Linked DNA regions of Homo sapiens: region 1 is linked to region 2. A link means that fine-mapping ties the variant in region 2 to the expression of a gene that starts in the linked region. Tissue or cell type: whole blood. Region 2 holds a variant in brackets; the other region holds the start of a gene. All regions are shown on one strand. Distances are between the middles of the regions.

Region 1 (5,000 bases), 24 kb before region 2:
AATAGGTGATCCCGTTGGGTCAGGTGGGGTGGGAATGTGGGTGTGACTGGGCTTCGGGTGGCGTTTCTTCTCCCGCAGACATGGCTGGGCTTGTTTGGTACTTCTCCCTCCATGTCCTCCGCTGCCACCCTCCTCCTGTCCCCGTCCTTCAGGACAGAACCAGCAAATCAGTCTCAGCCCCTTAAGAGCACCTTTACTGGTGCTTTCTTTCCCTAGGATTTTTTTTCTCTTTTTTCATTTTTTTCCATTTAAACTCAGTGGCAAAAATCCCAAGGACTTTTGATCCAAAGGCGGCAGTTATCACTAAGTGGTTTATTTCCTTCTAAGACCTAGCCAACGGTCTCAGAGCCAATGCTGCTGGTACAACTACTCTATTAATGGGATAGTTTTGGTAAGTCTGGATCCTCCCAGCTGGGTCCTCCTGATCAGTGCAAAGCAGCCTTTTGTTTTAAAACACATTGCAAGCAATGGCTTGGGAAGTAAACACCATCTGAGGCTCGCTGGCCAGAGGCAAGGGGAGACGGCAGGCAGTTGAGCCTGCCTGAGGGTTCTCTCAGCAGTGACTTCCTTTTTCCCTTCCTTCTTCTGCCTAGTCCTGTATGTGAGGACTATTAATTGTTTTTTGTTGTTGTTGTTGTTTGTTTTGTGAGATGGAGTCTCCCTCTGTTGCCCAGGCTGGACTGCAATGGCGCAGTCTTGGCTCACTGCAATCTCTACCTCCTGAGTTCAAGCAATTCTCCTGCCTCAGCCTCCCAAGTAGCTGGGATTACAGGTGCGTACCACCATGTCTGGCTAATTTTTGTATTTTTAGTAGAGACGAGGTTTTGCCATGTTGGCCAGGCTGGTCTCAAACTCCTGATCTCAGGTGATCCACCCGCCTTGGCCTCCCAAAGGCATGAGCCTCCCAAGGGCATGAGCCACTGCTCCTGGCCGAGGGGATTAATTTTTACCCGCACCTCAGGGTTATTGAGTAACAGGCTGGCTGGGTTTGCAGGCCAGCGTGTTCCTGGTGGCAGCCGCTCACTCATTAACACTTCTGGAAGTGCTGCATGTCTGGTTAAACTGCAAATGCTTTGCAAAGTCACGAGTCATGTCACTGAGCAGAGGCGTGAGACTGCCGGCCAGCCCTGCTGTGTACACTGATAGAATTAGTGAGCGAGCGTCCCACTCTGATGGAATCCAGATGGAACTCGTCACTGTCACTGCGGTGGAGACGGTGGGGCCACATCTGCACTGAATCCTACTCTGCGCCTTCAATGGCTGCGTAATGGCGGATGGCCATTTCCTTGACTAGGATGAGACATTGCCTACTCTGCGTGGCTGCTGTGAGCGTGAAATGGGATCATGTGCGGAACAGCCACGCATGGTCCGTGAAATGGGATCATGTGCAGAACAGCCACGCATGGTCCTTGGTGTGTGACAGATATTGGGTCCCTCTGTGGTCCCAGGCAGACATTGCCCGGGGTGGGGGCCGAATGCATGGTCAAGTTGAGGGGCCTGGGACTGTTTCACGGGTCTAGAAAAAGAAAGCAGAAACGCTGGAAGCAGGACTTTATTGTCCGACATGGGGCTGCCTCTGAGCCTGGGCTGTGTTGGCTGGACGTGAGCCATAATGCAGGTGTCCCCCTCCCAAGCCCTGCTCAGTCCACTCACAGCCCGATGGCCAAGGGAGGACATGGCTGCCCGCCACGGCAGTATCTTCAGAGGTGAGGCGGTTGTCCCTACGCTCTATGCTTCTTATACAAATTAGATATAGGTGAAGCCACCCATTAAGCAACCCAGCCTTTCTGGGACTATTTGGGCTGCCTCCGGGTCCACTAAATGCGGTTCATTTTCCCCAAGCCCCCTCCGAGTTCAAGGAGGCTCCTTCCTTTCCTCCTCCCACTTGCTTCTCCCAGGCTCCCTGACTCCTGCGCTCTGGGATCTGCACCCCACCATGGGGTGAGGAAGCTGAACTGCATGGTGAGGCAGCTGCCCTGCATGCAGCCACATCATGGGCTGGAGATGCCACTGTCCGCTTGGTTTAATGATCAATGAGCTCCCTGCCAGGAAACCCTTTCTGACCTGGTTTGCCCCTCAGTCCCTCGGGCTCATACCTAGTGCCTGCGGCAGGACAGCCATGGCCGCCAACTCCACCAGCGACCTCCACACTCCCGGGACGCAGCTGAGCGTGGCTGACATCATCGTCATCACTGTGTATTTTGCTCTGAATGTGGCCGTGGGCATATGGGTAAGGGGACCTGTGGTGGTGTTGGCCAAGTGGGCTCTCAGGGTTGGTGCTTGGGGTGGGAACCGGGGTCCAGCATGTCCCTGTGGTGTCAGCATTGGTCCCAGCTGGTGGCCTAGTGATCCTTGTGGTCCTCCTCCCAGCCTGGGGTAGACTTGCTTGGAGACCTTGACCAAGCCCGTTTCTCTCTTTGGGTAATGGCGTCTCCATCTGCAAAGTGAGGAGGAGGAAATTCTCTCTAACAGGTAACTGGGCTTTTGTGCTGCTGCCCAGCTGGAGTCCTTGGGTGTGGCCCATCAGCCTCCTGGTCCCAGTCTCCATGGTGTCAGTGACTCCTGTCTGCTTGAACAACAGGCTCCCCGGGATTCCCTGGCTGCACCCCAGAGCTGCTGGATCAGAATCCGGAGGCAGGGAGGGCCCTGGGAACTGGGGGTCTTTATTTTGAACAAGCTCCCTGGGGATTTATGTCCTGTGGCCTAGCCCTAGATCATAAGCCGGTTCTTTCTCCCTTCATAACAGTGAGAAATGAGCAGAGATCTGACCCCACACACAGATTCCAGGGGCAGCGGGGCCCCTGGGGACAGGCTGTTTCATGTGCAGATGGAGAAACCGAGGCTCTGGCCCTGCAGCAAGGGAAGGGCTCCTCTGGTCTATCGTGGAGGCCTTCCTGAGGGAAGGTGGACACAGCCTGGTTCAGGTCACCTGCTCCACGCTTAGCGCCTGGGGATGTTGGGCTCCACTTCTTAAGCCCCAGAGGTCCCCAGCCTGGCATCCCTGAGCCCTGACAGTCTCCTGGGGAGAATGAGTACCCCTTCTTTTTTTTTTTTTTTTTTTTTAACTGAGACGGAGTCTAGCACTGTCACCTGGGCTGGAGTGCAGTGGCACTATCTCGGCTCACTGCAACCTCCACCTCCTGGGTTCAAACAATTCTGCCTCAGCCTCCTGAGTAGCTGGGATTACAGGCGTCCACTACCACACCCAGGTAATGTTTTGTATTTTTAGTAGAGACAGAGTTTTACCGTGTTGGCCAGGCTAGTCTCGAACTCCTGACCTCATGATTTGCCCGCCTCGGCCTCCCAAAGTGCTAGAATTACAGGCGTGAGCCACCGCGCCCGGCCGAGTACCCGTTCTTATCTTCCATAACCCCTGGCCTAAGCACGAAGGCCTGGCAAACAGGAGACTGGTCACGTCCCCTCAGCTTCCTGGGCCTCAGTGTTCTGATCTGTTATATGGAGACACCACCTACCTGGGGTGAGGTCTGCTATCAAGGGGCCCACACAGGACCAGACCTTGCTGCTGCCATTGGTTCTACAGTGGTAGCAGTGGTGGTGGTGGTGGCAGTTGTAGCAGTGGTGATTATAAGAGTAGCAGCCGCAGTCATTAAAATTAATTATCACAGGTTGGATTTCAAAAATCTGAAACCCAAAATCTGGAACATTTTGAACACCAACATGATGCTCAAAGCAAATGCTCATTGGAGCATCTCAGATTTTAGAGTTTTGGGTTGGGGATGTTCAACTGGCAGGTATTCTGTAAGTATCTCCAAATCTGAAAGAGTCCGAAATCCAAAACTTTTCTGGTTTCAAATATTTCGGATAACGGCTCCTCAACCTGTATGTGATTAAATATTAACTCACAAGTAGCCCAGTGCTGGCCATCGGCAAAGCCGAGTTCAAGTCTCGGCTCTGCTCTGTGTACTTAAGTCACTTAATCTCTGTGGGCTTCAGTTTCCTCAAACACGCAATGCGGGTTTCTGTGCAGCCCACATCTCAGGGCTGTTCCAAGGAGCAAGGGTCCAATGGAAGTGAAAATCTGTTGCAAACTGTAACGTGCTATATTCCTGTGACAGTTGGTGGCTAGAATTCAGAGGAGGAGGTGCCCACGTGGGGCAGAACAGACAGTGGAGGGTTTCTGGATGAGGGGAGGTAAGGGCCAGGCAAGATCTGAAGAGGGAAAGAGGAGGGGAGACAAGGCTGTCCTGGCTAGCACGTCTAAGAAAGATGTTCTGGGCACCTGAGGCCAGACCCTTTGTAGCCCAGTGACTTGGGCCACCAGCCCTTGTTGCCCATGACCCACCTCTCCTAGTGAGTCAGCTTGCTGTTTGCAGGCTGGTGCCCCTGGAAGTAGGGCTGTAGGAGTTCTGCCCTGTCCCTCCTAGCAGGCTAGGCTGGCCCAGCTGGGAGCGGCTGGCAAGAGAGCAGTGAGCACATCCAGAAAAGATCAGAACCAGACAGGGAGGATGCTGGAGATGCATCCCACAGGGAGAAGCAGACAGAGCAAGCCAGGCAGGTGCAGCCCTGCAAAGATGTTTAGATGGTGGGCCTGGGAGAGTCTGGCGGGGGCCGGGGGGAGGCCTTTAAGGAAGAGATGTTCCTGGAGGAGGGGACTTTGAGCTGAGCCTTTGCATTCATTAAAGTATCTGTTAACAAGTGACTGAAAACTGCTTTCAAATGAGCTCTAAGAATATAGGAAATGTAGGCCGGGCGCAGTGGCTCATGCCTGTAATCCCAGCACTTTGGGAGGCCTAGGCGGGTGGATCACGAGGTCAGGAGTTTGAGACCAGCCTGGCCAGCATGGTGAAAGCCCGTCTCTACTTTTGTATTATTTTGTGATAATACAAAAATTAGCCAGGCGTGGTGCCAGGCGCCTGTAATCCCAGCTACTCAGGAGGCTGAGGCAGGAGAATTGCTTGAAACCGGAAGGCGGAGGTCGCAATGAGCTGAGATCACGCCACTGCACTCCAGCATGGGCAAAAGAGTGAAACACTGTATCA
Region 2 (5,000 bases):
GTAGGTGGCATTTTTCTAACCAGAAACAAAACCAGTAACAAAGAGGCAAAGGGTCCAGTGGACAGAGCCCTGGTCTGGGCTCCCGTCTGGGCTATGCCCCTGCCCCTCCCTGGGCCTTGGTGTCCCTGTCTGTGAAACAGGGCAGTGCACAGACCAGAAGGCCTCCCAGGGTCCTGCCAGCTCTGTCACCTGCTGATGCCGCAGCTCCAGGCCGGGTGCCCTCCCTTAGTCAGTAGCAGCCACCTCAGTCATAACAGCAACCACAGCTTTCGTGGGCAGCGTGCTGACTCCAATGGCCACACCCCAAAACTCACTCATCATCTTCCCTGAGAAAGAGAACTCACATTCACCGGAGGCCCTTGAGGAGCCAGGGACAGGCTTGGCCGGCTACACTAGCAGCCTCACTTAAGTCGTTGCAACAACTCTCCTCATTTTGCAGATGAGGAGCCCAAGGTGAAATGGCCACTCAGGGAGTGAGTGCCGGCTTCCTCAGGGAAGAGCGCCTGGCTGGGACTAGACACCAGTGCTGGGAGGTGGGGGTGAGCAGTGGCCTGCTGACATCTGAGTTGGGGGCCCAGCCTTGCTATCTGACAGTCAGGGGTGGGGAAAGCCCCTGCCCTATTCAGGGGGACTGGCAGGCCTCACAGCTCATGGAAACTCTGAGCCTCAGCTTCTCTACTTGGGGTGACAGCACCTGTCCCAGGGCCAGCTGACATGAGCACAGATTGGAATATAGAGGCAAATATCCCACCAATGGCAAAAAGACATTCAGGGTCTTAGGGAAATGCTTCTCTCCCAAGCACCTAGACAGAACCACCGTCTAACTCTCTCATTGTCCAGATGGGGCAACTGAGGCCCAAACTGAGGCAAGGGCTTCTCCCAAGTCACAGCAAGCTGGCAGAGAAGCAGGAAGGACAGCAGCTTGCCCTGCGTTCGGAGGCTGCAGCCCGCAGGCATTCCTAGCCTCTGTAATTAATGTTTCCGTGACATCCACAGCTTAGGGGTAAATGCTGGGAGCCGTCCGTTAAACTAGCAAGCTTGGAAAGTAAGTTAAAATCACGGAGGCAGCCGGATGCGGTGGCTCACACCTGTAATCCCAGCACTTTGGGAGGCCGAGGCGGGCAGATCACCTGAAGTCGGGAGTTCAAGACCAGCCTGACCAACATGGTAAAACCCCATCTCTACTAAAAATACAAAAAAAAATTAGCCGGGCGTGGTGGCTCATGCCTGTAATCCCAGCTACTTGGGAGGCTGAGGCAGGAGAATCCCTTGAACCCTGGAAGGCAGAGGTTGCGGTGACCCGAGATTGCGCCATTGCACTCCAGCCTGGGCAACAAGAGTGAAACTCCATCTCAAAGAAAAAAAAAATCATAGAGGCTTCCTGCTCCTGAGTTGCAGCTGGTGACTTAAACTGTGGAACCGCAAAGGAAAACTAGTTACGTTTCAGAGTCATAGGTCGTACAACTTTGTGAACGTACTAAAAACCATGGGAACAGTGTACACTTTGGGTGAATTATATGGTCTGTGAATATCTCAATAAAGCTGTTTAAAAAGTAACTCTTTTGGGCTGGGCACGGTGGCTCACGCTTGTAATCCCAGCACTTTGGGAGGTCGAGGCGGGCGATCACGAGGTCAGGAGATCAAGACCATCCTGGCTAACAAGGTGAAACCTCGTCTCTATTTTAAAAATACAAAAAATTAGCCGGGCGTGGTGGCAGGCGCCTGTTGTCCCAGCTACTTGGGAGGCTGAGGCAGGAGAATGGCGTGAACCCGGAGGCGGAGCTTGCAGTGAGCCGAGATCGCACCACTGCACTCCAGCCTGGGCGACAGAGCAAGACTCCGACTCAAAAAAAAAGTAACTCTTTTGAAGTAGAATCGTAATATCAGTGCTGGGAGAGATCTCAGACATTATGGGTCCAAATTACCGCTCCCTCCTCCCATTCTGCAAATCTGGAAAGGCCTGGTTAGGATTTGCTGAAGGCTCCCAGAAGGGCCGGTGTCCTCAGATAGCTTCTAGCCTCCCTCTGCTACTGAACTGCAAGCTTTCAAAACCCCAGGTCTTAAAGCACCTGAACTCTGCCAGCCATGCAAACACAGTTGGCGCCAGTGTCTGCTCCTGGCACTATAAATGTGCCAGCTGCTGTCATGAGGGTCCAGGAGATGAGGGTAGGGGTGTATGTCCCCATACCACCCCACCCAGGGTCTCCTCCAGCCCTGACAATTGCCAGGGGTGGTGGGCTGGGCAGGATCCACACCTCCCCTATTGACAGGTCAGGGGACTGAGTCCCTGGGAATGAGTGTACCTCGGCTCTCGCTGCTTGGCCTGCTGAAGTGAGCTCTCCTGGTGGGACCCTGACAGTATTGGGGCTTTGAGTGTGGCTGTTTTGGGCAGGTCAGAGGCTAATGGGACATCATCGTGCCTCATGCCCATTCCCTGAGGCCCACCAAGGACCAATCCTGACACAAGTGTCCCTCAGGCTTGGACTCACCCCGTCTCGCACTCCACCCCCAGGTCATCGTGCAGCGATCACTGTCAGCCCGGGACCTGAACCATGCCAAGGCGGGCTCCATCCTGGCCAGCTACCTCAAGATGCTCCCCATGGGCCTGATCAT[C/A]ATGCCGGGCATGATCAGCCGCGCATTGTTCCCAGGTAGGACGGGCTCCGGGCACTGAACCCAGGCTGCAGGGCACCCAGGGTTCTGGGACCTTGTCCTGCAAACGTCACCAGAAGAAGAGGCAAAGGATAGATGTGAACTGTTCCCCAACCTGGGGAGTGGGGAGAGTGGTCCTCAGGGCCACAATCAAAGGGATTAACATGGATGTGGCTTGGCACAAGGTCTGGACAGGTATCACTTACTGCTGTGTGACCTCAAGGCTGTAAATGAACGTCCCTGTGCCCCGCCTTTTCCTCATCTGCAAACTAGGGACTGTGCCACCCATCTGGCAGGTGCCATCAAGATCCTCTAACCACAGGCTTTGGAGACCTCTAGGTGGGGAAACGTGCATTTTCTTAGGTTGCCTTTTCAGGATGCTGGGACCAAGAGTCCCCAGCATTAATGATGGCCTTCCATATGGCCCTGGCCGGTTCCCACCCCTGCCTGTTCATCAAGTTTCCCCATCTGTAACAAGGGAATTGAAGTCATCAGAGTCAGGGACATGGTAGCCCAGAAGACAACAGCTCGAGCTCTTGGGTGGCTGGCAGGGAGGGACTCGTGACCCCTGGTGTGCAGGGACCCTGACCCACCTGTGCCTCCTTGTCTGTGGAGCGCTGGGCCTGCATCCTCTTCAACGCATCTGCTTCTTCTCTTCCCCGACTCTGGGCCCATGGGGAGCCACCCTGGGGTCCAACAAAGGTCCCTCGGGTTATATGGGGGGCACTCAGCTGCCGGCGCGGTGGTGGGGTTGGCCCGTTGGCCACTTGCTCTGAGTGGCGCCTCCGGAGAGGGACTGAGTGCTCTCTCACCTCGAAGTACTCCTCTGACACAGAGGAAGCCACTGAGGGCCGTCGGGGGCCAGGGCCACGGCCGGAGCTGCCTGAGTGGCTGTCCTGGTCACTGAGGGTTACGTAGTCGTCATCATCTTCTTCTTCCACCCCATCCAGCCCATTGGGGAGCCCCACCCCGAGGCTCTCGGGGTCATCCTGGGTCACAGATAGCTGCCGCTGGAGTGGGGCGTGGCCTGGGCCTGCCATCCTGGGTAGCCTATGGTCTGTCCCATTCTGGGGAGCTTCCTCTTTGGGGAGCTCCAGGACCCAGCCAATATCACTGCTGTCCCGGGCTAGTACATCTGCCACAGGGACTGTCCGGGGCTTGGGCACGGGGGGCAATGGCTCAGGGTCCCCCTGGGGGAGGCCGTTCTCAGCTGGGACACCGTCCTGGGGGGCACTGGGCTCTGGGGGAGGGCAAGGCTCTGGACGGGGCCTGCTGTCCTGGCTCTGCTTCCACAGCTGGTGCTGGGCGCTGGCCTGGGAGGTGTCACGGATCTTGATGCGGTTCATCTGGCTGGGCTGGGGGTTCCAGATGTTGGGGTCGATGATATTGATGTAGCCCAGGATGTCGCTGCCAGGCTCCGGGTCTGGCTCCACCCACGTGGGCAGGTACTCAAACATGTTGGCCCTCTCCAGGTGAAGCAGTCCTGGGTGGATGGGTGGCAGCAGCTCGGGGAGTTCCCCTGGATGCTCAGCCAGCGCTGGGCCTTTCAGCCCCAGGGGCTTCTTGGCCTCCTGCTTCTCAGAGGAGATCTTGGCAATCTCGTCGACGCTCTTGGCCTTGACAAGTGCGTACTTGGGGTTGACGAGCTTCTTGGCCACAGTGCCCGCGGGCACCAGGGGGACCACAGAGGGCAGCACAATAGGCTCCGGCTCCGGTTCCTTCTCCATAGGGATGCCCTTGAGGCTCACACTGTGTGACATGAGGTACAGCTCCTGGAACTGCCGGTCAAACATCTCCACCACCTGGCCAGACAGCACAGAGATCACATTCCGGTCCGTCCGCGCGGCCGACCACGTGAAGCTGCAACAGAGGGAGGGGGCGCTGGTCAGGCACATGACCCTGCTTCCTCCGCCCAGCCCCCGTGCACCCATAGCCGCTGGGCCTCAGACTGTGGCCACAGGGCCCTGGGATCAAGAAGTGAATGGGGGCAGAGAGCAGGTGCATACTGTGGGGTCAGACTGAGTCGGATGTCAAGCAAGTTGGTTGCACCAAGCCCATTCCCACCTCTGCAAATGACAGGGCACTGTGCTCCTCTCAGGCTGGTACAGGATTCACTAAGCAGCTCAGGAAGGCCCTGGACACTGTGGGGGGTTCTGCATGTGGTGGCCGCTGCTGCCATGCGTCTATGCTGCCACCAACCCCCATGTAACCATGGGCAGCGCCCACCCCATGCCCCATGTGGTGGTGCCCACAGAGCTGGCCCCATCCCTAAGGACGGCTCTCAGAGTGACCCCCATAGGCTTGCGAAGGCACGGCCTGGCCACACCCCACCTCCAGGCCGGTGACATCTC

Evidence for each region. PIP is the estimated chance that this variant, and not a neighbour inherited with it, causes the effect.
Region 1: SLC5A10 starts here. The variant in region 2 is fine-mapped to the expression of SLC5A10 in whole blood (TOPMed, PIP 0.98).

What each region holds. Positions count from the first base shown.
Region 1 is chr17:18,950,087-18,955,086 of GRCh38, forward strand. SLC5A10 (solute carrier family 5 member 10) reads left to right here and starts at 2,079. Exons shown (of 15, transcript NM_001042450.4): 1 at 2,079-2,230. The coding sequence starts at 2,120.
Region 2 is chr17:18,974,342-18,979,341 of GRCh38, forward strand. SLC5A10 (solute carrier family 5 member 10) reads left to right here. Exons shown (of 15, transcript NM_001042450.4): 9 at 2,513-2,648. It overlaps FAM83G (family with sequence similarity 83 member G), which reads right to left. Exons shown (of 6, transcript NM_001039999.3): 5 at 3,243-4,509. Among named protein-coding and RNA genes, the nearest start is that of SLC5A10, 25 kb to the left of the region's middle. The variant C/A (reference allele first, on the strand shown) is at 2,614.